2 separate regions of the Homo sapiens genome follow, and region 2 is linked to region 1. Evidence: fine-mapped expression QTL. Tissue or cell type: whole blood. Region 1 holds a variant in brackets; the other region holds the start of a gene. All regions are shown on one strand. Distances are from middle to middle.

Region 1 (2,654 bases):
TCGTCTCTACAAAAAAATACAAATATTAGCTGGGTATGGTGGCACCTGCCTATAGTCCCAGTTACTCCAGAGGCTGGGTTGGGAGGATTACTTGAGCCCAGCAGATGGAGCTGCAGTGAGCCGTGATCTGTCACTGCATTTCAGCCCTGGCGACAGAGCAAGACCTTGTCTCAAAAAAAGAAAAGAAATTGCCTACTAGCTCTTATATCTGACCTTAAATTTTGTCTGTGGCAGGAGGGGGAAAAAGCACCAGCCACCTAAGTGGGCAGGGGGAGCTGGGATTTAGAAGTCAGCATCCTTGTGCCTCTGCTCTTTGGTTAAATGACCTTGAACAGGTTATTCAACCTCTTTACGTCTCAGTTTCCTCACTGGTTTTTTAGGATTAAATGACGCTTGCGAAGGGTCTGGAGCAGGTAGGCACGCAGAAACCATTAGCTGGGACAGTGGAGGTCTTCCTCCTCCTCCTTTACCTGCCCCACAGCTGCACGTGAACCACCGATGGCGCCACCTTCTCCACCACCGCGGCGATGAAGTTGTAATTCCTCCTGAGCGGGCCTGCGCTTCTGGTCCCTATGAAAAAATACTGGCTCAAGAGTACGCCTCGAGGGAACCAGACCTGCTATCCTAGTTGGAAAAATGTTAAAGGCAAGACAGTGTTCAAAAGGTGCATGGGGAGGGAGAAACCACGTAGCAGCCGGTAAAGAGCCCCTGTTAAGGAGGAAAGGAAATCAGGAACACAGAGGTGTCGAATCCAGGAGGCAAATGACGCAGGAGGACCAGGCGCGAACTGTGCGGTCTCAGTGAGGTCTTGTTCCTTTACGCTCCTCCAGAGTTAGAAAGTGTTCCGAGGGCGCGCGCCCCCGCGGCTCACCTGTATCCCCGCAGTTCCCCCACTGCACAGGCACGGCCGGGACCTTGCCCAGGCGGCGCGCGGCGCGGTTTTCGGCCCGGAGCGCGCACATGCTGGGGTAGGTGCGCCTGTCGCTGCCGCACACGGCCCCTCCCAGCGTCGGGCAACCGCAGGTGCTGGGGAACCCGGGGCGCAGCGGCTGGAGGCACTGCAGCCCCGGGGCGCACGGTTGGCCCTGCGCCCCGCCGCAGACTTCACGCTCGGCCGCGGGGCAGACGCGGCAACAGCGGCACAGGTCGAACACCGGCGTGGTCCCCAGCGCGCAGGTGGGCAGCGCGGGGCAGCGCGTGGGCTGGCAGACCGCGGGGCAGGAGGGCTGGGTATGTAGCTTTTCAGCCCCGGCCCAGAGGACGGGCACCAGGAGCAGCAGCAGCCCCGGCAGGAGGCATCGTCCCAGCCCCGCGGTCCGCAGCTGAGGTCTAATCATCCTGTTCCTTCCTCGCTTCCACTCTTCAGTGACTTTACTCTGGACCTGCAAAC[C/G]CTCCTAAATGAGAGACACTTTCTCCCGGCCACGGCGCCGCCTCCGCCGGCCCCCAAACTTTAAGGGGCAGAGCCTGGCATACCTCTGCATATACACACCCGTACATCCCCTACCACCCGCCCCCGTCGGCGCCCCGGAGCCAGGTTCTCCCCCAGGCAATGAGGGGAAGGTCTCTAGCCCTACCCGGAGCAGGAACCTACCTCCTGAAATCCCTAAAACCGACAATGAGGGCAGACTGATAAGAAAGCTCACCCACCCATGGTCAGAAGGTCAGTATTAGGAAAACACATGACCATATTTCAGTATTTCACATGGTTTTATTACAAAACAAGCCACAAAACAGTTTTAGAAAATTTTTGCTACATACCAATTAGGAGATCACATAAAATGAGAAGCGTAACAGTTTCCATGCACTCAGCCTAGAGCTTACAGCGAGTGCATTTCACAGCTGAAACATCACTGCTTTAAAACACAGAATCATGCTACCCCTTCATAAGCAGAGGGGGAGGAGGTCAAACAGTATGTTTTTGCCAAACGTTTGCTTTATCTGAACTCTATCTAGTATGAAGGACTGGCTGCCGCAGGCAATAACACAGAGAGGAAAAGGAACAAAGGAAGAAAAGGGTGCTGGCAGACAAGATTTAACAAACCTGTCCACTTCCGACATTTTGAAAGTTTATAAACAAAGCTCACTTGGGGACACTCAATTTCCAAAATGCTGTGACCTCCACATGTTATCTAATTTATACTGAAAACAAACCTACTAAACTCCACTCCTCAACTACTGAACCTGCTATTTATTCATGGGGTCTTTTTAGCCCATATAAGAGTATATTTATATTCAGAAATATAAAAGAAAAAAAATTTGCTTCAAGTAGACTAAGAAGCTGGACCTTAAAACTACTTTCTTTCTCGTGGGAGCTGAGTATTCAACTCAGAAATAGATGTATAACTCCAATATTCTGACCTGACATCAATCTCCATAATGTATACCTCAATACCCTTATGATGTCTCACTTAACACTAAAGGCCAAATTATTTTTACCAACCATCAGCTGACATTGAGTAAGCAAGTCTTTTGAAGATTTCAAAAGTAATAGATGGTGGCCAGGCGTGGTGGCTCACACCTATAATCTGAGTACTTTGGGAGGCTGTGAGGCAGGAAGATCACTTGAGCCCAGGAGGTCCAGGCTGCAGTGAGCCATGATCAGGCCACTGCACTCCAGCCTGGGTGACAGAGTGAAACACTGTTTCTAAAAATAA
Region 2 (2,681 bases), 73 kb after region 1:
AAACAAGTGGGGGGCTTACAAGTCCTGTAAGCTCGCCAAAGACAGGGTCCAGCCCTCCAGAGGTAAAGGAAAAAGAAAAAATAAAGACAGGGGTTGTGTTTTGTTCATCACTGCCTTGCATGTATAATACATGTCAACTGAATGCAACTGAAATAGAAAGCAAAAACTTCTATTCTTTCAAGATCTTTTGCTTTGCTGTTTCGGAAGGCTTCGCAACCAAAGAAAAAAAATGACAAAAGAAGGGAAAATGGGACTTGGTCAGATAGATTAAGAACACCATTAGTGCAATCTTGGGACTTCAGCCCCAAGTGCATCTACAGCTCAGCCTTCAGAGCCCCCAGAGCCACAGCTGGCTTTCTGGTGGGGTGCTCTCCCCTCCCTCTTCTCTGCCGTTTACTGTCCTCTGAAAACCCCACTTGGAGCCCTAAAGAAAGAAAGGGGGCGGGCAGGAAGAAGGAATGAGAAGGGGAAGATACATCCTGAACCTGCGTTCACCAAGAAGGAAGGAAGCCAAACCCTAAGGCTAGGGCCTGGGGGCAGGGCTGGCCCCGGGGAGGAGATGTGAGGGTGCTCCGGCCGCAGCGGGCCCTGCGCCCCTCTCTGGGCGTGCAGGGACACTTTTCCCTTCTAAACGGCCTAGCTTCCCACCACCCCCCCCCACACCCTTCTTTTCTCTTTCTTTTTAAAAAAATTTTGGTGAAATCGTCTTTAGGACTGGAGGAGAAAAGGGAAGCGTGTAAGGTGAGGAAGAAGTTGGTGAGAGAGAGAACGACAGCTCCCCTCGAGGGCTCACCCAACCTGGCACCGAACCTGCATTTTAGGGCAGTCCTTTTCACTGTCTGGAGTTCCAGAAGCCCGAAGTCCAGGCTGCACCCAGAGGAAAGGACAGGAGTCCCTAGGGGAGCCTTCTAGGCCTGTCATTTAATAAGGTAGTCGGGGGAGTGAAAGAGGAGTCTCCATGGCCCAATCCGTACCCAAGGGACTTGCCTGGGGACGTTCTCTGCTCTCCTCCCCTCCCGCAGCCCGGGCAGTCGTTGCGGGGTCGGTGCCCCAGCGCCAGAACCCGCAGAGAAGTTTCGCTGCTGCAAACGTGAGAAAATGCAGCTCAGCAGAACTCCCGCCCCCACCCTCTCCGCGGCCCCACCCCCCGCAGCCCGACCCCTGGCGGCGGCGACCTTGGCCACCCGGGGCACTTGGAGGAGGGGCTGCCCTCGGGGCTCTCCCAGAGGGTTGGAGGAGGCCTCCAGGGTCTGCGGCCACCTCCCCTCGCCTGTCAGCCACTAGGACCGGCGTATTCAGCCCTGCGCGCGCGCCCCTCGCGCCCCTAGGCCGCCAGGCCTCCGCCGGGGCGCCCCCTGCACCCCCAGCCCCGCCAGCCCCCGCGCGCCCCTCTGCGCCTCTCCACTCCCGAGCCCGCGAGGGCGCCCAACTTACCCCCCCGTGCAGGGGCCGGGGCTCGGGCGGGGCGCGTTACATCGGGCGGGGTCGCCCCTCCGGCCGCCGGGTCCGCCGCGCTCCAGGGATTTCTGGGTCTGCCTGCCAAACTCTCCGCGCCTCTCGCTCCCCTCGCTCTGGTCTCCCCCAGTGCCCCCTCCTTCTCTCCCGTCCCTCGGCTCTTTTTTCCGGGTTAATTACGTTTCGCATTAAAGCAAAACCCAGCCCCGGATGTGAGTACAATGCTCCGCGGAGCCCGCCGGGGAGGGAGAGGGGTGCCGGGGCGCCGCGGGCTGGGAGGGGGTGCGGCCGGGCGCCGGGGCCGCGCGGGGGAGGCGGGGGCGGGGCGCCCGGAGGCTGCGCCCGAGGCCGCCCGCGTTCCGCGCCTGGCAGGTGGGACCTGCGCGCCGAGACTGCCCCGCGGGGAGGCCCGGCCCCGACGCTCGCTCGGGCAGCAGGTGTCCGGGCAGGGGGCGTCCTCGCAGGAGGAGGCGAGCTGGAGCGCGAGCTCCCTCAAGAACCCCATTTCCTCCTCCCAGAGCCCCACCCAGCGACCTCAGCTGGGCCTCCTTCGGATCCCGAGCCCTTAGCCTTTGGGGACCGAGGAGTTGGGGTAAGGGTTAGGGTCCCAAGAAGAGTGGCTTCTTCAGGTTGTCCTAAATGTGCCCTAAGAGACCAGTGGGCGGGAACGCTCTAACCAGGGTTATAAGGACTTTAATTTCTTTATTTTATTTTATTTTTTAATCAAGACAGGGTCTGGCTCTGTCGCCCAGGCTGGAGTGCGGTGGCGCAGTCATAGCTCACTGCAGCCTCGACCTCCTGGGTCCAGCGATCCTTCTGCCCCAGCCTCCCGAGTAGCTGGGACCACAGGCGCCTACACCGTGCCCGTTGGGACTTTTTCGGTGTGATGCGAAGACTCCCTTCCTGCCCCCAGAGCATGAGGGTGCTCTGGGAAAAAATGGGAAACAGACAAGCATGTGTTACTACGTAAACCTCGCCAAGAGGAACTAAGAGAGCTGCTGTGCGCGGGTCCCGCCCCTGCGCTATCTCATTTGATCCACGCCGCAACCTATGGGTACCAGTCCGGTTCACGGTGAGGAAACCGAGACTCAGACTTGTGAAGTAATTTGCCCTGGGTACCCAGTTAGTAAACGGCAGGTCTGTCAGGTTCTGACTCCGGCCTCCCACGTCGGGAGAGAGACATTTGAATATGCATCAAGTCAGGTGGACAACATCCGAAACATGAA

The links. PIP is the estimated chance that this variant, and not a neighbour inherited with it, causes the effect.
Region 2: PLEKHA2 starts here. The variant in region 1 is fine-mapped to the expression of PLEKHA2 in whole blood (TOPMed, PIP above 0.99).

The regions. Positions count from the first base shown.
Region 1 is chr8:38,972,947-38,975,600 of GRCh38, reverse strand. It overlaps PLEKHA2 (pleckstrin homology domain containing A2), which reads right to left. Exons shown (of 12, transcript NM_021623.2): 12 at 1,689-2,654. HTRA4 (HtrA serine peptidase 4) reads right to left here and starts at 1,373. Exons shown (of 9, transcript NM_153692.4): 1 at 872-1,373; 2 at 471-570. The coding sequence starts at 1,337. RefSeq lists an enhancer at 737-796 and a silencer at 977-1,206. The variant C/G (reference allele first, on the strand shown) is at 1,391.
Region 2 is chr8:38,900,199-38,902,879 of GRCh38, reverse strand. It overlaps PLEKHA2 (pleckstrin homology domain containing A2), which reads right to left and starts at 1,534. Exons shown (of 12, transcript NM_021623.2): 1 at 1,435-1,534. LOC124901937 (a long non-coding RNA gene) reads left to right here and starts at 1,435. Exons shown (of 2, transcript XR_007060893.1): 1 at 1,435-1,667; 2 at 2,184-2,681. RefSeq lists silencers at 863-1,532, 1,613-2,022 and an enhancer at 2,623-2,681.